2 separate regions of the Homo sapiens genome follow, and region 2 is linked to region 1. The links come from fine-mapping of genetic effects on gene expression. A gene starts in region 1. The other region holds a variant in brackets. All regions are shown on one strand. Distances are between the middles of the regions. Region 1 holds the start of MAP4 (microtubule associated protein 4). Region 2 has its middle 25 kb from the start of CSPG5.

What was found. PIP is the estimated chance that this variant, and not a neighbour inherited with it, causes the effect.
Region 2: its variant is fine-mapped to the expression of MAP4 in whole blood (TOPMed, PIP 0.97).

Annotation. Positions count from the first base shown.
Region 1 is chr3:48,010,605-48,022,720 of GRCh38, forward strand. MAP4 (microtubule associated protein 4) reads right to left here and starts at 5,812. Exons shown (of 21, transcript NM_001385682.1): 1 at 5,730-5,812.
Region 2 is chr3:47,547,531-47,559,646 of GRCh38, forward strand. No RefSeq gene overlaps it. Among named protein-coding and RNA genes, the nearest start is that of CSPG5, 25 kb to the right of the region's middle. The variant C/T (reference allele first, on the strand shown) is at 6,191.

The DNA of each region.
Region 1 (12,116 bases):
CAAGGAGTGGACTTGTAATGTTAATACTGTCAACTTGATTGGACTGAAGGATGCAATATTGATCCTGGGTGTATCTGTGAGGGTGTTGCCAAAGGAGATTAACATTTGAGTCAGTGGGCTGGGGAAGGCAGACCCACCCTTAACTGGGTGGGCACCATCTAATCAGCCACCAGCGAATATAGAGCAGGAAGAAAAACATGAAGAGATGGGCCTAGCCTCCCAGCCTATATCTTTCTCCCGTGCTGGATGCTTCCTGCCCTCGAACATCGGACTCCAAGTTCTTCATTTTGGGGACTCGGATTGGCTCTCCTTGCTTCTCAGCTTGCAGACAGCCTACTGTGGGACCTTGTGATCACGTAAATCAATACTTAATAAACTCTCCTTTGGAGATATATCCTATTAGTTCTGTCCCTCTAAGAGAATCCTGACTAAAACAAGTAGTGTGGGGCTCGTGACAAAAACTGATAGCTTTGCTGCCAAAGGGGCTCCTGTGGCATGACAGAGCTGTTGTCCACAGCAAATGCCATCTCACACTACTGGAATTATAAATTCCACTATTTGAATAACCACTGCCGAATTCAGGATTTAGCAGCTTTTCTGAAGGAACCATAAATAGGAATTCAATGGTTCCTATAGTAGGAACTGGACTTGGTAATCCCAGCCTGTAATCTCCCAGCACTTTGGGAGGCCAAGGCGGGTGGATCACTTGAAGCCAGGAGATTGAGACCAGCCTGGCCAACACAGTAAAACCCTATCTCTACTAAAAATACAAAAACAGAATAACTAGCTGGGCACTGATTTTTATTATTTAGATGGTATGCACCTGTAATCCCAGCTACTCAGGAGGCTGAGGCAGGAAAATTGCTTGAACCCAGGAGGTGGAGGCTGCAGTGAGCCAAGATCACGCCACTGCACTCCAGCCTACGTAACAGAGCAAGACTCCGTCTCAAAAAAAAAAAAAAAAGTTCCTATAGTAGTAGTGGCACACCTGTGACCCATTTACAACAGACGAATGTGGGTGGGAAGCCCTATTCTATGCTCGTCCAGCCTACTTTACATATAAAGTATTATTGTAACTCCAGATCATGACAGGGAAAATGCTGAGAAATGAGTTCATTAAAGAGCTTTTAAAAGCCTAACAGATTATAATGTCAAAGGGTTCCATGAAAAGCAACTATTCAGTTGCTTTTACTATTCGGTTATGCCATTTCCCTATTCTATCTCTGACAACTATTATTAGTAGTTATCCTTTGGGAGCTGTTATGAACCAAAAACTAAAAAGGACGTCTGTAACTAGTTTTGATAGAGGCAAGAGGCAAACAAATGTCTAGGCAGACAGGGGCGGGTCCTCAGTGAAACCCGAACTTTAATCCGGAAACTGTCCTGGGTAAATCCTGAGATCGGATTAAGAACCTGCCTTCCCGTTTGGCATGATTGATCCCCATCCTTCACCTATTTAACCTGTACCTACCCTTTCCTAATTGGTTTTCTACACTGTCCTGCCCACCTTGGAGTGGTGTCTTCGCTTTGACCTTTTTTGCATACTCACAAACCAATGACCACACACTCCCATTCTGAACCAATAAAGAGCCCCAGGCTCAGCCATATTACGGAACTTTCCTGTCTTCAGGTAGTAGAACCACCTACCATGTTCTCTCTTTTTGCTAAGAGCTTTCCTTTCGATTAATAGATTCTACTCCACTCACTCTTTGATGTCCACGTGCCTAATTCTTCCGCTCCTGAGATAAGAACCTGGACCTAGTTGAGCTAAGGAGCAAAAATCCTGCATCAGTTTCATGGTCAAAGAGAACTTAAAAGGACATCTGTGCCATCCTTAACAACATACCATAAAAATCCAAAATTTAATTTTCCCCAGAAATACATAATGACATAAGATGCAATCTACTCAAATCTTTTCCTCATTTAAGGCACAGGGTAAAAATACAGTCAAAAACACCAATACATTTTAAATATCATTTATCAGAATGCAGATTATCAAAGGGCAGCTTTTATCCATTGTAATCTTTCCCCTATCCAACCCTCAGCACCCCCACCCCGCCCCCAGCCACACACTCTCAGATGACTTCCTGGGCTGCATGTGGTTCATGGAATATGAACAGTAGCTGAAATTCAGCCTAAGAGGGTAAAACTGATAGAAAATTATACAATTGGAAAGTGGGAAGGTCATGAAGCTATGAGCACATCTAGCTAGCCACTTAGCATCTGTATTTCATCAACAGTTAAGCTATTCTTTACTTGTCACCACATAAATAGAATATGATTTTAAAATACACACACACACCCCCTTATGGAAAATGATCCTAGAAAGGTAATGCTAGTGTCATCTTTCAAGTTAAAGTACTGTTGTTTTTTTTTTCCCAGAAATCCCCAGTTTTCAATAAATTAAAGCGATTATCCAATTTTATAGTTATTTTATTCTGAAACATGTATAAGTACAATACACTCTTTAAATGCTCTATAGATGTTAAACTGGTTCAAGTATTCCAAAATTAATTTTAATAAATTCATGTATGAATTTCATCTCACACAGAATCACTTGAAGTTACTTACTATTCGGTTATGCCTTAAATGCTTAGTTACATATTTTATGGATAAAAGGATATGACACTATTATTTTCAAATCTGGATGTTCAGGAGGATCAAAAAATGAACCCTTGTGAATGAGAAGCATTTACTCTAAAAAAAAAACCTCTCACTGACCAATTGACCATTTATACTATTCCTCTTCTATCCATACAGATAATAAAGTTAACTTTAAATAGATTTGTGAGTAAGAGTCAAGAGAATTTGAAAGCTGGGTACAGAAGTCTGTATGCTTTACTGAAGCACCAGTTTAATCTGACACTCACTGTGGCCTTGAATGAGTCACCTTTCAGGGCTGAGTTCTCTAATCTGTAAAATGAGAGTGTTATGTTAAATGTTTACTGAGGTTGATTATTCTATCAGCTACTTGTAATTCAGCTGCATCATTTCAGTTAGCTATAAATAAACCCCCTAAGACCCTCAGTGTGAATATGAACAACTATCATTTCATATTATTTCATATATCAAGTATTCTCATTTATAATTGGGTTGAGGTTTATTAAAAAAAAAAAAAAAAGCTTTTTGGCAAAGGGAGGGACTGAAAACAAATTCACCACTGCATGGTGCCCTGCTTGAGCCAATCTGACTGGAGCTTAAGAAACTCCACCCAGTTCTGGCTAACATCAAAGGAGACTCAACACCACTCTGCCAGAAAATAAGCCCTGTATTATCTAACCAGGCACTAAGGGAACACACAGTTTTCAAGCACAGCACTTTGTATATCTGATCTTTCATTCTGATGACATGCCTGAAGTGAAACTATTAGTGAGCCGGGTTTTTTAAAATAGGTAAACTAAGGCAAGAGGCAACTACATGGCATGATGATAAAATACTCTCTTGACTACAATCTCACTATTAAGAGCTAGGTGCTCATAAACAGGAAATAAGGATATATGATGAGGCCACAGTACTTTGTTGTATGCTTTACTTTGGATAGTTCACAAACTCTGGAATTAATTACTGTACTAAAAATATTTTACAGGTCTATACAGATTAAACAGTGTTAATATCTAACTTAATTACACAGAAGTTCTGAAGAACCTTTTAAGCTCCATGAAGTCCTCCTGAAAATTTTAGGTCATTCGCATCTAGAGCCACTCACTCGGGGTCTGTGCTCATTCTGTCTGATGAGAAATTGGCAATCTGGTTTACCAATGGCCTGTTGCTGTCTCTGTCCTCTTCTATTCACCCCTTGAAAGGTGCTACTATGGGAGCTAAAATGCAGGGAAAAAACTCATGAAAAGCTAGAACAGAGCTTGGGCAAAATGGCAAAACCCCATCTCTACAAAAACATGTAAAAATTAGCCAGGCATGGTGGCACATGCCTGTAGTCCCTGCTACTCAGGAGGCTGAGGTGGGAGGACTGATTGAGCCCAGGAGGTTGAGGCTGCAGTGAGCCACTATTGCACCACTGCACTCCGGCGTGGGCAACAGAGTGAAACCCTGACTCAAAAAAAAAAAGCAAGAACAGAAGCCTGATTCCCACCATCATACTCACTTTTCCTAACCACTGTGTTAGGAAACCTTCATTTTACTGTGTCACATTAGCCAAATTTCTACCGACATTCATTTGCAGTAGCCAGCATTCTCTTTTTAAAAGTATAGAATCCTATTTCTTAATTTAAAAGTGGGTAAGAAAATGTACATCCCTGGAAAGACCATTGTTCATCCCAGAGATGGTTCTATTGAAGATGTCTGAGTTCTTGGTTCTGGTGTGAAAAAGGAAGAAAAATATTATGGCAACATGGGAACTTTCAGGGAATAAAGCAGATATAGATATGGTATCAAAGTAGGGAAAGGGTATACAGGCCCAGGAGCCCTAGGAGGCAAAAGAAAGGGAGTTAATACCATGCCAAAGACAAGCTTGCTATCTTTCAAAATATCGCCTCCTGTCAGTTTCAGCAGAAAGAAATAAACTTTCTTCTCAGTGACCTAGGCTACTTTGAGGCAAATCATTTTGAGTTCCAAACAACCCATTTAATAAACTTTAAATAATTATTACTAAAGGTAGGATACTGCTTATAATGCTCACTTATATTTTCTCTATAACTGATAGCCTGTCCTTTTTGGGTGGGTGGGGGCGGGGGCGGTTATGGACAAGACAAGGAACCATAAAGATATCTGGGTTAATGTTTTCTTTTATACGTTTGTTTTTGCATGACATTTAAATGACAGAGAATTCTAAAGCCAACACTAAGCTGCTATCCTAGGACATTAGTGAGAATGCTGTGGCCAAAATATAGTGCTCATTCCTCAGGCTTGAAAGGAACCCCACGTCGCCAGTGTGGGAGATCATTTATAATCTTGATGGATACAGGTATAGCCTGCTTCATAATAATTTAATATTCAACATCAGATTTTTTTTTAGTATGCCTAGCAGGTTTTTAGTTACTAATTAACTTTATTACCCAGATTTGTTTCTTACTGAACTTCTTTCAGAGGCCTGTTATACATCAAGCTGAACTTTGTCTGGCAGCTGTGCTGTTTTTAATTTATTTAACCACAAAACCTTGATTTATACTTTCAAGCAAAATGATATTTTACTTAAAAATAAATCTTTAGCAAGGATGTCTACAGGAATCAACTACCAACTTACACAGTTCACAGACACATATGATTCCTCAGACAAATCTGAATTTCTCCTGCTTCTCCTCCAAACCAGACTTGCAGATAGCAACAGACAACTGAGGAAGATCTTGACTATCCTGAGCAATAAACTACAACCCCCCTGAAGAATATATTAACTGTCCACCCCTAGGTTCCTCCCTACACAGTTCAAGGACAACAGCTGTGCTATTACAAACTGATGGAATTTCCAGGCTTGACAGGGTTCTGTTCGTAACCACCATTTGTCCTGTTCATCATAGGATTAGCAACAGCAGAGAGCCCTTGATTACTAGAATAGCTGAGGCCATCACACAGCTACATTCCTACATGAAAGAACACACTGATATAGGTTTAAAGAAGTTATATTTTACTTTCATGTAGTTACCAGAGTCCCCCCCACCCCCCATTTAAGGGAGCCCTGTTCTCTGGATATAAAAATACTGTATACACTTGCACACACATACTCACATACATAAAACCTTGCATCACAAAGTTAAAAGGCTACCTTGCTTACTTACAGGAACTATCCAGGCAGCTTGTGTTCAGTCCTGACTAAATGCATTTTGGATCAGGCACCTGCCTTCAACATTTCTGTCCAAATGAATTTCAATCTATTTCTCCAGGAAGAACACACCAGATACCTCCCACTGTTAGCCATGTGATACAGGCAGCATGATGTCTGAAGTCTGGTTACGGTTATGTAGGCCAAAATAAGAAATGACAATGACACAGCACTTACATTTCTGATATCACCAACCTTAAGAATGAATCTTCCATTTTATCTAAATTTTTTAAATGAGTAAAACTTTAAAAGATTCTTAATACCTAACCCCTCAAAATTTTGAAAAAGGAGCATTTTTTTTAAACTTTACATTTATCCCACTTCCTTCCTCTAACACAGGAAAACATTCAGAGTTAATCTATACCAATCCAAAAATTATTTCTAACCACATTCTAAAGGCATTTTTTTTTTTTTTGAGACAGGGTCTTGGCCTGTTGCCCAGGCTGGAGAATGCAGTGGCATGATCTCAGCTCACTACAACCTCCGCCTCCTGGGTTCAAGTGATTCTCCTAACTCAGCCTCCTGAGTAGCTGCGATTGCAGGCATGCACACCACCATGCCTGGCTAATTTTTGTATCTTCAGTAGAGACGAGGTTTCATCATGTTGGCCAGACTGGTCTCAAACTCCTGGCCTCAAGTGATCCACCCATCTTGGCCTCCCAAAGTGCTGGGATTACAGGCATGAGCCACCATGCCTGGCTCTAAAGGCTTACACCAGTTGAACTGATCTAGGATCCAATCCCCTCACTTTAATAGATGGAAAAAAAAATGAGAAATGGAAAAAACAAGTCACTTACAAATGAGGCTGAGACAAAGGATCGGCGAAAAGAGCCACAGAACACCAAAAACAGAAGCAGAGCGTGACAAAATAAGCAAAACCTTACAGTTTTGTAGTTTCTGCTTTTATCTAACACAATGACTTCGCTGTACTTCATATACCTTTTGAATTATACCTGCTTATACATACCTTTACCTACCTACTACTTATACCTACCTATCTTTTCTTCTGCAAGGAGGGAGGCAGGCAGGAAGAATCCTGAACATCAGGAAAACATTCCACCTGATCTTTAAAGGGACCCCAATGCCTAGATGTCTTTTTCTTTTTTCTTTTTTTTTTTTTTTGTAAATCCAAACTCTTACGTGTAATATCAAGGCTGACTGACAAGACTCAGTCCTATCACCCACCATAATCATCAGCAGCTTTCCATGTAGGGTCTCCCTACAATTTAGTCACATGGGACCATCTACCATCTTACATTATCACTGTACACCCTATGCTCATTTGCTCTCCAAACTTGAAGTTATCTTCTCTCCCTCCTCATTTGTGAAAGTCTTGAAATCAAGGTCCACATAAATTGTCTTACCACCTTTTCTGTGACTGCTTTTTAGAATCTTTCTCCCAGTAGTATTCAGAACTAATACATCATCTGTACTTGTAACAGTAGAGTCTGATCTATACTGTAGTTCAGTGGTCCCCAAACCTTTTGGCACCAGGGACAGGTTTCGTGGAAAACAATTTTTCCACAGATAGCAGGAGGGGTGAGAGGGAGGAGATGGTTTCGGGATGAAACTCTTCCACCTCCGATCATCAGTCATTAGATTCTCACAGGAGCATGCAACCTAGATCCATCGCATGTGCAGTTCACAATAGGGTTTGCGCTCCTATGATAATCTAAAACCACTGCTGATCTGACAGAAGGCAGAACTCAGGCACACTTATCGCAAAGTTAATGTAATGCTGTTCACCTGCTGCTCACCTCCTGCCGTGCAGCCCAGTTCCTAACTGGCCATGGACTGGTACCAATCTACAGACCGAGGGTTGGGGACCCCCCACTGTAGTTAGTTGTATATACCAGCTCCTGTAAACTGCTGGGTCCCAGAAGAGAGGACCACATCAAAGTGATGTGCACACCTTCTCTGTTCCTAGTAGACTACAGAGGAGACAGGCCAAAATGATAAAAACCAACAAAACAAGGGGCTAAAAACACATTTCTAAAATGACACGATGAAAGTTATTAGAAATTGAATCTAATTTGAAATTAATCAGAAGTTCCAAAATTACAAAAACTCTTCACAACTAGAAAAAGAATAAACAGATTCAAGGCTGAAAGGTTATCACCAATTACAAATATTCACCTTGGCTAGGTGTGGTGGCTCATGCTTGTAATCCCAGCACTCAGCACTTTGGGAGGCTGAGGTGGGTGGATTATGAGGTCAAGAGATTGAGACCATCCTGGCCAACAAGGTGAAACCCCTCTCTACTAAAAATACAAAAATTAGCCGGGCGTGGTGGTGTGCACCTGTAGTCCCAGCTACTCGAGAGGCTGAGGCAGGAGAATCACTTGAACCTGGGAGGTGGAGGTTGCAGTGAGCCAAGATCGTGTCACTGCACTCCAGCCTGGGTGACAGAGTGAGACTCTGTCTCAAAAAAATAAAAATAAAAAAGAATATTCACCTATTTTCTTCCACTTTCTAAACACAGTTTGTACAAGAGCAAGCATGTTGTCTGGAATTATAGAAAGAAAGCCAGTAAGGAGTAACCGTACGAACCAGCTCTCCATGCTGGTCATCTTATCATTATTAGGCATAGCAATAAAAATAGCTCTCTCTGCTTTTAGAAAAGCATGACATGATGCAATGTGGCAAAAACAAATATTCAAGATGGTCGACCAGTTACTGGCCTGGCATGGTGACTCACACCTGTAATCCCAGAACTCTGGGAGGCCAAAGCAGGAAGACCACTTGAGCCCAGGAATTCAAGACTAGCCTGGGCAAGATGGCAAGACACCATCTCTACAAAAAAAAATGTTTTTAATTAGCTGGGCATGGTGGTGTGTGCCTGTAGTGCCAGCCTCTCAGGAGGCTGAGGCAGTAGGATTCCTTGAGCCCAGGAGCTTGAGGATGCAGTGAGCTATGATTACAACACTGTACTCCAGTCTGGGCGAGAAAGTGAGACCACATCTCTGAGGGACAGAGAGAGAAAGAGAGAAAGATATCAGCCACTACCATCATGTTAATATGATCATATAAATATTAAAACTTTATAATTATTAAAATATTAAATCTCTATAGTTATCAGCTCATATATCTGTCAGAAAGTAATAAGCATATCATGTAACTTTAGGATGACTTAGTGCTGAGGAGATTGGAAGAAAGGAAGAATATTCATACTTGATCAGCTCTTAGCTTTTGAGAACTATTTTATTAAAGAAAAAACTCTCTTTTGGCTGGGCATGGTGGTTCATGCCTATAATCCCAACATTCTGGAAGGCTGAGGCAGGAAAACTGCTTGAGCCCAAGAGTACAAGACCAGCCTGGGCAACACAGTTGAGACTGCGTCTCCACAGAAAACATTTTAAAATTAGCCTGCACACCTGTGGTCCCAGCTCTTGGGAGGCTGAGGTGGACGGATCACTTCAGCAGAGGAAGTTCAAGGCTGCAGTGAGCCGTGATAGCACCACTGCACTCCAGCCTGGGCTACAGAGTGAGGCCCTGTCTTGAAAATAATAGATAACAAAAGAAAAACTTCTCCCATTAAGCAAAGTGAAGTTTCACTCTATTTTATATCAGTGAAAATAAAGAAAAGTGGAAGGTAGAAGAGGACATAGGAATTTGTGCTGCCAATTCTATAATTTTTGTTTTGTTTTGTTTTTTGTGGGGTTTTTGAGACGGAGATTTTTGTATTTTTAGTAGAGACAGGGTTTCACCATGTTAGTCAGGCTGGTCTTGAACTCCTGACCTCAAGTGATTCGCCTGCCTCAGCCTCCCAAAGTGTTGGGATTACAGGTGTGAGCCACCATGCCCACCCTTGTAATTGTTTATTTACAATGTGTGTCCCACCCAGAGTTCCCCTTAACGCTTGAGTTCCTCGATGGCTAGGATAGCATCTTTCTCACCTTTTATCCTGGACATCTAAATATAATAAACTTGAAACCTCACAGGCTCTCATTAAATGCACATTTGTCCTGCTAGGTGCGCTCTGCTCCATACCATACCAGCCTTCTCTTGCTGGGGTTGATGTTTGCACAGCTGGAAGCACCCTCATAGTTCTTCTAAGTATTGGTTCTAGGCACGACTAAGGGTAGAGTAGCTCAGCTTTTCTGAGCAAGAAGGAGAAGATACAAACTCTATGGGAGTACTTAACAAGCATTTTGTAGTCGTGGCAAAGGCCTTACTTTGACCTAATATCTTACAGATGCTTTCAAAAAGGAGGGGGGGAATATCATTATTAAATGAAAATTGAACAGCAAAAGTTGAAGAGATCTTTCAAGTTATTAGTAACATAACTTTTAATATTTTACCTGAAATACAAGTAAAAATCTGAATTAAAAGTATTAAAAAAACAAAAAAAACACGCTGGATCAGAATTGTTCAGGGACAGGGTTAAGCAATATGAGTATTATTTGTTGTTGTTGTTTTGTTTTTTTTAGAGACAAGTCACACTATGTTGCCCAGGCTGGAGTGCATTGGCTAGTCACAGGTGTGCTCATTGTACACTACAGCTTCAAGCTCCTGGGCTCAAGCGATCCTCCAGCCTCAACCTCCCAGGTAGCTGAGACTAGAAGCATGTGCTACTGCACCAAAAATCTCAGTGTTGTTGGTTTTCTTGCAGTAAGGGTAATCATGACACAGAGAAATCTCATTAAAGTTGAGTCCGAGAGGCACCCACAATTGAGGGTCACTGAATTAATCAACAATCTACCTAATCCATTCAAGATAAAATTCACTGAAATGAAATGCAACACAGGATTAATACAACTTAACAATAGAAAGACATCACACTCCCCCTTGTTAGGAAGGTGTTTTAGAATCAGTTTACTAGATGTAGAATCTGAGGCACGGATTTTTGTACAAGTGATTTACTAAGGGAGTGCTTTTAGGAAAAACCTATAAGGTTTTATTTTATTTTAAGGTTTTATGATATTTTAAAGGTATCAACTATCCCCAAACTAATCTATAGTTTTTGTTTGTTTTTGTTTTTTTTTTTAGACAGAGTCTCACTCTGTTGCCCAGGCTGGAGTGCAGTGGCACATGATCTTGGCTCACTGCAACCTCCGCCTCCCAGGTTCAAGCAATTCTCCTGCCTCAGCCTCCTGAATAGCTGGGACCACAGGCGTGCGCCACCACATCCGGCTAATTTTTGTATTTTTAGTAGAGACAGGGTTTCACCATGTTGGCCAGGCTGTTCTCAAACTCCTGACCTTGTGATCCACCTGTCTTGGCCTCCTAAAGTGTTGGGATTACAGGCGTGAGACACCACGCCCGGCCTAATCTATAGATTTAACATAACCCCAAGCAAAGTCCAGTAGGTTTTTTCTTTTCAAATCAAACTGAAAAGTTGATCCTAAGTTTTACATAGTAATTTAAAAAGTCAAGAACAGCTAAGATAATCTTTGAGAACAAACTTAGAGGAACTTAAACTACTGGATATCAAAACTTACTGATGGATTGAACCATGTGAAAATGCTGAAAACTGATGAGTTTCTAACCTATGGCAATGTCATATGTTTGAAACTAAAAATACATAAATATAGTAATGAAAACATTGTGGTACCTGCACAATCACCAAGAAAGAGGCCAATGTACTTGGTGTGCTGAACATATGGAAAAACAAAACAAAACAAAACAAGAGGCCAATGCAAAAAAATGGTTTTGAAACGGAACCACATGCATATGGATACTTAATATCTGACAAATGTGACACTGCAAAATAGTGGGGGAATTAACTGTCTTTTCAATAAGTGGTGCTGGGTCAACTGGATATTTTGAGCTCTACCTCACAGTATATACAAAAAGTAATTCCAGGTGGATGGCAGCCCTAAATGTGAACGGTAAACAATAACATGGCGAATATTTTCATGATCACAGAGGCAGATGAAGAAAACGAACAGACAATGGAGAGAGTAGAGAGACAGGGACAAAAGAAGGAAAAAAGAAAAGCAAAAAGAAGATGATGAGGTGGGAGGATCATTTGAGCCCAGGAATTTGAATACAGCCTCGGCAAGGTGGCAAGAAGGGAGGGAGGGAAATTCCCCTCAGCAGTACTTACCAACTTACAAGAAACAGATGGGCTTATTTCTAATTGTAACACTAAATGATTTTTTTTAAAAAATGAAGTGATGCCTTTAAAACTGAGAAAAACTATTTTGAAGCTAGATTTTTACAGCCAACTCATCCATTAAGTGAAGGCTAAAATGGGAAATTCAAACACACAATTTAAAAAAAATTATTGGCTGGGCGTGGTGGCTCATGCCTGTAATCCCAGCACTTTGCGAGGCTGAGGCGAGCGGATCACAAGGTCAAGAGATGGAGACCATCCTAGCCAACATGGTGAAACCCCGTC
Region 2 (12,116 bases), 460 kb before region 1:
GCTACTCAATATATTTTAGAAGGCTGACATAACCTTGATACCAAACACCCAACAAAGATAGGCAGGTTATAGGCCAATCTAACTCATTAACATATATGCAAAGACTAAAAATACACTTTGGCAAATTTGATCTAATAATAATTTGAAAGGTTAATGCATCTGACCAAGTTAGGTTTATTCCAAAATTACAAGATTGGTTTAACATTTGAAAAATCAATGTAATTTTCTGTATTAAGCAAATAAGTTAGGAAAATTACATGATTAGCCTAATAGATGTGGAAAAGCTTTTGATATAATTTAACATCCATTAAAATTAAAACTCTTCAAAACTATGAATAGAAGAGAACTTTAATGTGATAAAGGGTAGCTGCAAAAAAAGCTTACAGCAGGCAGTCTTAATGATGAAATGTTGAAGGCATTTTTTCTCTTTGAGATTGGCAATGATATGAGGATGTCTGCTCTCACCATTATGTATTCTTAAGGTACTGAAAGGTCCTGGCTAGTGTGATATCCAAGAAAGAGAATTAAAACGTGTAAGGATTGTAAAGGAAGAAACAAAGCTATTATTATATGGAGATTACATGATTTTATACATAGAAAATCCCAGTGCACTGTGGGAAGCAGAGGAGGGAGGATTGCTTGAACTCAGCAGTTCGAGATCAGCCTGATAACATAGCAAGACCTTGTCTCTACTAAAAACCAAAAAATGTAGCTGGGCATGGTGGTGGGCATCTGTAGTTCCACCTACTCAGGAGGCTAGGGTGAGAGAATCGCTTGAGCCCAGGAGATCAAGGCTGCAGTGAGCTGTGATTGCACCACTGCACTCCAGCCTGAGCAAAAGAGCAAGACCCTGTCTCAAAAAAAAAAGAAGAAGAAAAGAAAATCCAAAAGAATGTATGGATGAATTATTATAAGGGTATTTAGCAAAGTTTGCTGAATACCAAATCAATACTAAAAAATAATTGAGCTTCTTTACAAAAAGCAGTATGTATGTTTCAATATGAAAAGCAATATATAACTAAAAAATTAAAAACTAAAAAGTTGGCTGGTAGCAGTGGCTCACACCTGTAATCCCACCACTTTGGGAGGCTGAGGCAGGAGGATGGCTTAAGACCAGGAGTTCCAGCTTACAGTGTTATTTGTGTGTCACTGCAGTCCACCCTGGGTGACAGAGTGTGATCCTACCTGTAAAAAAATAAAAATTAAATTAAAAAAAAAAACCAAATCAGCCGGGCTCAGTGGCTCATGCCTGTAATCCCAGCACTTTGGGAGGCTGAGGTGGGCGGATCACCTGAGGTCAGGAGTTCGAGACCAGCCTGGCTAACATGGTGAAACCTCATCTCTACTAAAAATACAAAAATTAGCTTGACGTGGTGGTGGGTGCCTGTAATCCCAGCTACTTGGGAGGCTGAGGCAGGAGGATCGCTTGAACCTGGGAGGTGGAGGTTGCAGTGAGCTGAGATATCCATGATATCTTTTTTTGAGACTGTGTCTCAAAACCAAACCAAACCAAACAAGAAACCCCAAATTGTATGGTATGTGGCCTTTTGAGTCTGGCTGCCTCTGCTCAGCTTAAGGTTTTTGAGATTCACCCATTTGATGTAGCTCATACTTTTTTTTGTTGTTAAATAGTATTCCACTGTATGGCTGTACCACAGTTTATCCACCCACAGTTGGCATACTTTGGGTTATTTTTTGGTTTCAGTTATTTTAAAGCTGCTAGCCCCATACATATGCAGGTCTTTGTAAGGACATGTTTTATTTCTGTTGACTAAATATTTAGAAATGCAATTACTGGGTTCTGTACATGTTTACCTTTATAAGAAACTGCCAAATTGTTTTCCAGGGTGGCTATACCAACTTGCTTTCTAAGCCATGTTCCAGTGGCTCCTCCAGTCCTCTTCAGCACTTATCTTCAGCAATTTTTTTTTTTTTTGAGATGGAGTTTCGCTCTTGTTGCCCAGCCTGGAGTGCAATGATGCGATCTTGGCTTACTGCAACCTCCACCTCCCAGGTTCAAGCGATTCTCCTGCCTCAGTCTCCTGAGTAGCTGGGATTACAGGCGCATGCCACCATGCCTGGCTAATCTTTTGTATTTTTAGTAGAAATGGGGTTTCACCTCGTTAGCCAGGCTGGTCTCAAACTCCTGACCTCAGGTGATCTGCCCGCTTCAGCCTCCCAAAGTGCTGAGATTACAGGCGTGAGCCACTGTGCCCGGGCTATTTAGCCTTTTTAATTTGAGCAATTCTAGTGGGTAAGTAGTGGTATCTTACTGTAGTTTTTATTTGTATTTCCCTAAATACTAATGATATTGTGCATCTTTTCATGTGCTTATTTGCTATCCAAATAACAACTTCTTCCCCTTCCCCTTCCTCCTCCTCCCCCTCCCACCTCCCCCTCTTCCTCTTCCTCTTCCTCTCCTTCACCTTCTCCTTCTCCTTCTCCTTCTCCTTCTCCTTCTCCTCCTTCTCCTTCTCCTTCCCTTCTCCTTCTCCTTCTCCTTCTCCTTCTCCTTCTCCTTCTCCTTCTCCTTCTCCTTCTCCTTCTCCTTCTTCTTCTTCTTCTTCTTCTTCTTCTCCTTCTCCTTCTCCTTCCCTTCTCCTTCTTCTTCTTCATCATCCGGGTCTTGCTCTGTTGCCAAGGATGGAGTGCAGTGGCACAAAATAGCTTCACTGCGGCCTCAACCTCCGTGGCTCAAGCAATACTCCCACCTCAACCTCCCTAGTACCTCAGACTACAGGTGCGCACAACTACGCCCAGCGAATTTTTGTATTTTTTGTAGAGATGGGGTTTTGCCATGTTGCTCAGGCTGGTCTTGAACTCCTGAGCTCAAGCTATCTGCCTGCTTTGGTCTCCCAAAGTGCTGGGAATACCTTTTTTTTTTTTTTTTTTTTTTTTACAGGGTCTCACTCTGTTACCAGGCTGGAGTGCAGTGGCACAATCTTGGCTCACTGCAACCTCTGCCTCCCGGGTTCAATTGATTCTCCTGCCTCAGCCTCCTGAGTAGCTGGGATTATAGGTGTGCACCCAGCTAATTTTTGTATTTTTAGTAGTGACAGGGTTTCACCATGTTGGCCAAGGTAGGGAATAACTTCTATGGTGACTTTTTTGTTCAGATCTTTTGCTCATTTGAAATACCAGGTTGTCTTTTTTTGTTTTTTTCTTTTTTAAGACAAAGTCTCTCTCTGTCTCCCAGGCTAGAGTGCAGTGGAGTGATCTCAGGTCACTGTAGCCTCGACCTCCTGTGCTCAAGTGATCCTCCCACCTCAGGATACTACCCCCAACCACCCTGTCCCCGTCTCCCACCAGTAGCTGGGACTATAGGTATGTGCCACTACACCCACATAATTTTTGTATTTTTTTGTAGAGATGACATTTCGCCTTGTTTCCCAGGCTGGTCTCAAACTTCTAGGCTCAAATGATCTGCCTGCCACACCCTCTCAAAGGGCTGGGATTACAGGTGTGAACTACTGCACTTGGCCTGTTGTGTTTTTATTTTCATTCAGTTTGAAATATTTTCTTATTCTTCTTTAGGAATTACTGAGTGTTTGAACTATAGGTCTAAATGTGTTATTTAATTTCCAAATGCTTTGAGGTGAAAGTTTCCAGATATCTTTGTCATTGATTTCTAGTTTACTTCTATTATAGTCAGAGAGCATGCTTTGTATGATTTAAATACATTTACATATATACACACAGTTTAAGAGACAGGGTCTCCCTCTGCTACCCCAGGCTAGAGTGCAATGGCATGATAACAGCTCGCTATAGCCTTGAACTCCTGGGCTCCAGTGATCCTCCTCCCTCAGCCTCCTGAATAGCTAGGACAACAGAAATGTGCTACCACACCTGGCTCATTTAAATTTTTGAGGAATTATTTTATGGTCCAGAATATCATCTGTCTTGAGTAATGTTCTTTGTGCTCTTGAAAATAGTATGTATTGTGCTGCTGTAGGAAAGAGTGTTCTACAAATATTGATTAGATCATATTTGATTGTCTTAATTATGTCTTCTATATCTTTATTGATTTTTGGTTGCCATGTACTGAGGGAGGGTGTTGAAGACTCCAATTGTAACTGTAGTTTAGCTATTTTCTTTTTTTTTTGAGACGGAGTCTCGCTCTGTCTCCCAGGCTGGAGTGCAGTGGTGTGATCTCGGCTCACTGCAAGCTCCACCTCCCGGGTTCACACCATTCTCCTGCCTCAGCCTCCCGGGTAGCTGGGACTACAGGCACGTGCCACCATGCCCAGCTAATTTTTTTTTGTATTTTTTAGTAGAGACGGGGTTTTCACTGTTTTAGCCAGGGTGGTCTCGATCTCCTGACCTCGTGATCCACCCGCCTCAGCCTCCCAAAGTGCTGGGATTACAGGCGTGAGCCACCGCGCCTGGCCTTAGTTTAGCTATTTCTCCTTTCATTTTCATCAGTTTTCACTTTATATATTTTGAAGCTGTCAGGTGCATATACTTTTAGAATTGTCTTCTTGATGGACTGATCTTTTTATCACTGCATAATGTCCCTCTTTGTCCCTTGTTCTGAAGTCCATTTTGCTGTTGCTGTTGTTGTTGTTGCTATTTTTGAGAGGGGGTCTCGCCCTGTTGTTGAGGCTGGAGTGCAAAGGCATGATCATGGCTCACTGCAGCCTCTTTCTCCTGGGCTCAAGTGATCCTCTCACCTCAGCCCCACAAGGAGCTGGGACCACAGGTGCGTGCCACCACACTCAGCTAATTTTTAAAAATATTTAATAGAGATGAGGTCTCACTGTGTTGCCCAGGCTAGTCTCAAACTCCTAGGCTCAAGCAATCCTCTCACCTTGGCCTCCCAAAGTTCTGGAATTACAGGCGTGAATCACCACACTCGGCCTCTGAAATCTATTTTGTCCGTTATTAATATAGTTGAAGGAATTCTTCATCTCCGATTTTGTGGTGGTCTTTTTGTTGTTGTCTATTTCTAGCGTTTTCATGACTCCTTTTTGTAGTTTCTGCCTCTGCTCAAGTTCCCCATCTTTTATGTGTTTCGTTCACCTTTTCCACTAGATCTTTAAACATATTAATTAGTCTCTGTGTGATAGTCCCATCATCTGGCTCATCTCTGGCTCTGATTGTTTTGTCTCCTTTATCACTTGATAAGTTCTTTCTTTTAAAAAAAAAAAAACCAATAGAGGCCTAGTTAAATAGTATATATGCCCAGAGACGGATGTGTCTCTCTCTTTTTTTTAAGATGGAGTCTCACTCTGTCACCCAGGCTGGAGTGCAGTGGTGCGATCTCAGCTCACTGCAGCCTCTGCCTCCCGGGTTCAAGCAACTTTCTTGCCTCAGCCTCCTGAGCAGCTGGGACTACAGGCACATGCCACCTCGCCCAGCTAATTTTTGTATTTTTAGTAGAGACGGGGTTTCGCCATCTTGGCCAGGCTGGTCTCAAACTCCTAACTTCAGGTGATCCACCTGCCTCAGCCTCCAAAAGTGCTGGGATTATAAGCGTGAGCCACCACACCTGGCCGATAGATGGATATGTCTCTTTCTTCTGTTTTGCTTTCAGTGTAAGGGATTGAGTTGGTCCAGCTGGTACTAAATAGCAGAGCTGGGTTTGAATTTTGTTGTTCCTATAATTCCTCCAAACATGCCAGGTGTGGTGGCTCACACCTGTAATCCCAGCACTTTGGGAGGCTGAGGTGAGAGGATCATTTGGGCCCAGGAGTTCAAGACCAGTCTGGAAAACATAGCAAGACTCTGTCTCTAAAAAAATAAAAAATAAATTAGCCAAGCATGGTGGGAGACACCTGTGGTCCCAGCTAATCATAGAGGCTGAGGCGAGAGGATCCCTTGAGCCCAGGAAATTGAAATTGAGGCTGCAGTGAGCTATGATCGCGCCACTGCATTCCAGCCTAGGCAACAGAGCAAGACCCTGTCTCTAAAAAAGAAAAAACAAATGCCTCCACTGGTAGGCTACTTCTACCTTTTGATTAGCGTGAGGCCTGAGGTGCTGGAGCGTTCTGCTCAGTGTTTCTGCTCTGCCTACACTTTCGGCAGGCCCTGTATGCCTGCACGTCAGAGAAAGAGGCCTTCTCTTTATGCTTTTCCCACTCGTCCAGCTGTAAACTGTCGCTGCATGTTAATCAGGGCCAGTCCTGCGGTGGGAGCAGCTTTTCAGTTTTCCTGGTCCAGCTTCAGGCTTAGGCAGATGTTGTGCTCCTGA[C/T]TCTCAGGGTGGGACTCTCTTACCTTTTTTTCTTTTTCTTTTTTTTTTTTTGAGACAGAGTCTTGCTCTGTCACCCAGGCTGGAGTGCAGTGATGTGATCTCGGTTCACCGCAATCTCTGCCTCCCGGGTTCAAGCGATTCTCCTGCCTCAGCCTCCCGAGTAGCTGTGACTACAGGCACGCACCACTGTGCCCAGCTAATTTTTGTATTTTTAGTAGAGATGGAGATTCATCATGTTGGTCAGGCTGGTCTTGAACTCCTGACCTCAGGTGATCCACCTGCTTTGGCTTACCAAAGTGCTGGGATTACAGGCATGAGCCACAATGCCTGGCCTTTTTTTTTTTTTTTTTTTTTGGAGACAGAGTCTTGCTCTGTCGCCCAGGCTGGAATGCAATGGCATGATCTCAGCTCACTTCAATCCCCGCCTCTTGGGTTCAAGTGATTCTCCTGCTTCAGCCTCCAGAGCAGCTGGGATTACAGGTACACGCCACCACACCTGGCTAATTTTTGTATTTTCAGTAGAGACGGGGTTTCACCATGTTGGTCAAGCTGGTCTCAAACTCCTGGGCTCAAGTGATCCACCCGCCTCGGCCTCCCAAAGTGCTGGGATTACAGGTGTGAGCCACTGTGCCCGGCAGGGCTTTCTTGGCTTTCTTGCCCTTCCCTTCCTTGGCAGCCAAACTCTGGCTTGTATCCGTGGAGGGCTGGGTGGGAGAGTTTTCCGCCCCTCCCTCAGTGGTGGCCGGCTTCTGCTTTGTGTCAGGGCAGGGTTCTGGGCCCAGGAAGGTTTTCCCCACCTCCACCAGGTGGATATGTCTTTGCTTTGACCCCTGCCTCTGTGACAGTACCTTTGCTTGGAACTGATGGCAGGAGAGGTTCCTGCCCATCCCCCAACAGTTATTTGTGGCCAGGCTTGTAGTGGGGAGAGGGTTTTGCTGCACCCCTTCCAGAGGCCGTTGATTTTTTCAGGAGGGTTTCTTGTCCCTCCTTCGGCAGCTTAAGGCTTTTGCTTGGATTGCTAGAAGAGTCTGGAAAATGAGTGGGGTTTTCTTCCTGTGCACCTCTGACTGGTGTTCTCAAGTCTCAGACCCATTACCCAGTTTTTTTCTTTTTGTTTTTTGTATTTATTTTTCTTTTGAGAGGGGGGCTTGCTGTCACCCAGGCTGGAGTGCAGTGGTGCAATCATGGCTCACTGCAGCCTTGACTTCCTGGGATGAAGTGATCCTCCCGCGTCAGCCTCCTGAGTAGCTGAGACCACAGGCACACGCCATCCCTGGCTAATTTTTTAATTTTTAATAGAGATGGGGTCTCACACTGTTGACCAGGCTGGTCCCACCCAGTTTTTCCTGTGAGCACCAAACAGGCTTGTGGAAGAGGCTGTGCATGGCTGCACTCTCGTATCTGGAGCTACAGGGATTCTGACTGTTCTACTCTTCACACTCCACCTTCACACATGTGCTCGCATCCTAACTGTCTTTCTTCCTGCTTTTGTGGTGTTGCGTCTTCCTCCTGGCTCCTGCCTTGGATAAAGCAGCCCCTGTGTCCTCTCTGGCTTAGAGGGGCTTGTCATCCTTTGGAATTCAATGTATCTGGTTGCCTCGTGACCTCAACACTTTAATGGGCTCAAGAAGTTGTGATTGTGTAGGTTTTCTGACTTTTTTCTTGCTATTAGGGTATGAGTGACATTCTCATGTGACTTTCAGGTGGAAACAATGCTTCAGGAATGATTTTATAACCATAAAGGAAGATGGATAAATTTGACTACATAAAAACTAGCTTTAATATTAACCTAATAGTGTGAAATTAGGAGTCATAAATAGGAAAAAAATTTGCAACACATATAAAGAATAAAGGGGCTCATAAACAAGATATTTAAAGAATGCCCTTGAATCATTAAGAAGAAGATAACCTAAAAGAAAAATGGACTCAAGAGTTAAGAAAGTACTTCACAAAAGCAGAAATCCAGATTGCTAATAAACATATTAAAAGCTGTGCAACCCGGGTGCAGTAGCTCACACCTGTAATCCCAGCACATTGGGAGGCTGAGGCGGGAGGATCACTTGAGCCCAGGAGTTTGAGACCAACTTGAGCAACATAGGGAGACCCCCATCTCTACAAAAAATTAGAAAATTAGCCAAGTGTGGTGGCACATACCTATAGTCCCAGCTACTTGAGAGGCTAAGGTGGGAAAAGCCTGGCCTCAGGAGGTTGAGGTTGCAGTGAGCCATGATTGCACCACTGCACTCTAGCCTGTGCAACAGAGCAACACCCTGTCTCGAAAAAAAAAAAGCTGTGCAATCTCATTAATAATTAGAGAATGCGAATTAAAATCACTATTACTTGCCACTACATTTTAGCCAACAAGAATCGCTAAAATTGACAAAGTATAAAACTATCAAGCACTGCTATGGATGTGGAGCAAAGGCAGCTCATCCACTGTTGGTGGAAGTCATTCACTGATACAACCACTTTTTTTTTTTTTTTTTTGAGACAGAGTCACACAGGCTGGAGTGCAGTGGCGTGACTTCAGCTCACTGCAACCTCCGTCTCCTGGGTTCAAGAGATTCTTCTGCCTCAGCCTCCCAAGTAGCTGGGATTATAGATGTGTGCCTCCATGCCCAGCTAATTTTTCTATTTTTAGTAGAGACAGGGGTTTCACCATGTTGGCCAGGCTGGTTTCGAACTCTTGACCTCAAATGCTCCTCCTGGCTTGGTCTCCCAAAGTGCTGGGATTACAGGCATGAACCACCATGCCCAGCCTGATACAACCACTTTTAACTATGATCTTGTAAAGGTGAAGATAAGTTAAATTCCACTCTAGCAATTCTGCTCCTAGGTATGTGCTCCAGAATTGCATGCACATGGGTACCAGGAGGTGAATGCCTCTGATCGTCACATTCTTCTTCTGGTTTTGATAAACCATTGGCCAGAGTGTTACTTAGTCTGGCTGGCCATCTGAGTCCTTAGGGTAACTCTGCAATCTTGTTCCCATGTACTTTGTGTCATCTCATGGTTATACACTCAGAAGACAGTATTATTTCCAAGCTTGCTTTAGAGGAGTTCCTCACTCTTTCCCCATAGCTGGTTGTATGCCTGCAATGAACTCTTGGGCTGAGGAAAGAGCTTCTGCTGTAGCACCCAGCAAGGGTGGTATTCCCACACTCCCTGCTCCTGGACCAGTGAAGCTGCCCCTATTCCCCTGCTGGTACCCACCCTTTCCCTTGGGCCTGGAAAACCCTGAATGAATTTCATGACACTGAGAAATACACTTCATAAGGCAAAGTTTTTGGTCTGTTTTCTTCATTGCTATATCCCTGATGCCTAGCTAGTCCTAGAAAAAGGCAAAGATTCTATAGATGAAAAGCCTTAGGTTCAGAAAGCACATGGCTCCTAAACAGAGAGAACTTCTAGCTCCAAGTTCAGTGTTTAGTGCTGCTTTCTGGAGCACAGATGAGACTTTTCACCAGGATAAATTATCTGAGAAAGGACAAGGTCTCCAGAGGACTCTTGCCAGGCCTGTGGATCACAATCATCAAGAAGCACAAACACTCCGGCAGGAAATAGGACAGGCACAGATGGAAATCAATATACCCTGTTCTAACACTTCAGCCCCTTCTTTGGATCAAAGACTCTTGGCAACATCCAGTAACTCTATTCCACAGGCCTACACCACCTCCTGCTCCCCTTCTGATCTGGGCGTTCCTATCCCTCCTGCATTGTGCTGGGTAGGTGAGACAGAGCCAAGGGCTTTGACACATATTTCATAACACTCTTGTGGCAGAAACAAAACAGAGCACAACACTAAGAAACCCTTATGTCTGGTTGGGATCTAGTATTTACAAAGCACTGTTTTTTGTTTTTTGGAGACGGAGTCTCGCTCTGTCGCCCAGGCTGGAGTGCAGTGGCGCAATCTCAGCTCACTGCAACCTCTGCCTCCCGGGTTCAAGCAATTCTCCTGTCTCAGCCTCCCGAGTGCTTTTTTTTTTTTTTTTTTGAGACAGAGTTTCGCTCTTATAGCCCAGGCTGGAGTGCAATGGGGTGATCTCGGCTCACTGTAACCTCCACCTCCTGGGTTTAAGTGATTCTCCTGCCTCAGCCTCCCGAGTAGCTCGGATTACAGGCGTCTGCCACAATGCTTGGCTAATTTTGTATTTTTTCTTCGTAGAGACGGAGTTTCACCATGTTGGCCAGGCTGGTCTTGAACTCCTGACTTCAGGTGATCCGCCCGCCTTGGCCTCCCAAAGTGCTGGGATTACAGGCATGAGCCACCACGCCTGGCCTACAAAGTACTTTTATATCCAGTCCCTCTTGATTGGGCCTTCTTATGAAAGGATCCAAAGGTACTTAACCATGAAAGTTAACAGAGTCCAGGAAGTCCTAAGCAGAACCAACGAGCTGTCCAAAGTGGGTAAGAGATATGGTTAGGAACCCATGACACACGTCCCAGTATGCAGCCCTATGCCACAGCAAAGAGCAGCCTGAGCTCATGGCGCCAGCTAAACACCATCTGGGTAAAAGGCCCAAGATGAAAACAGAGGACTTCTGTTGTTAGTAAATGGGAGGCTAGGTAAATTGTACCAACTCTTGCACTAGGAGCCAAAACATTTGAAAAGCATCAAAAAGCTAACAAGATACTAAAGAATTACTAGGCTAACATCCCAGAGAGGACACGAATCCAGACAGGTGAGCCCAGCGTTTGGGCCACTTGGACCTGGAGGCAACTGCCCATTTAGCAGAGGTGATGGAGAGAATGGGTTGTGTTTCTGAAAGTTTTGTAGAGCTGGGCAGGGGAAGCTGGAGTACGGGGCCTACCAAAGGTGGGATACTGGTAAACCACTGCCTGTTTTGAGGTGTGACCTGAGAGGATTATACCCTAGGGTTAAGGATAAACCAGAAGCAAACCAGCCCTTGCATAGTCTGACAGGTCTGTGGGTTGGTTTCAGTGGCTTAGAAAATCTCCAACCTTGAATCTGGATTACTGTGACCCCAGAATTCTAGAGCTCCTGGGTACCTGACAGAAGCAAATAAAATTCCTCTCTGGAGGGAGAAATCGTCCTAGGCTTCAAAATACTTTAATAAACAGGTTTTCAAATACGATGTCTAGCACAAAGTAAAAAATGAGGCACATGTGAACACACATCAGGGAGAACCAGCAGAAATTAGGTGACAGAAACACACAGGGATTCCAGTTATTGGAATGATCACAGATTGAACACAGGCAAAATGTTCAAGAAAACTCCTCCAGTTGTTGGTAAGTCTGGCTATTTGAAATCTTCACTCTCTAATCTATCCCCATTCTACAACCCCCATCCTCAATCTGCCTTACCCACTGTCTCCAGAGTTGTCTTTACACAAAACAAATCTGACCATCCTTCAGCTCTGTGCTTAAATGGCATTCAAGGCTGTTTGTAATCTGTCCTAAATTGCCCTTTTCAGCCTCGTCATATACTCATCATATAGACTACTTTCCTGAGTATTCTACCTTTGCCTTTAATGCCCTCATCTCCTATTTTATCCTGAAAAATGCCTCCTTATCCTTCAAAGTGCAATTTAAACCTCCTCTCTTTGAAGCCTTTCAGAAAAATATATATATGTGTGTATATATATGTATATGTATAAAATGTATATATATGTGTGTGTGTGTACATATATATATATATATATTTTTTTTTTTTTTTTTTTTTTGAGACGGAGTCTTGCTCTGTCGCCCAGACTGAAGTGCAGTGGTGCGATCTCGGCTAACTGCAACCTTCGTCCCGAGTTCAAACAATTCTCCTACCTCAGCTTCTCGAGTAGCTGGGATTTCAGGTGCCCGCCACCATGCTCAGCTAATTTTTGCATTTTTAATAGAGACGGAGTTTCATCACGTTGACCAGGCTGGTCTCGAACTCCTGACCTCAGGTGATCCTCCCACCTTGGCTTCCCA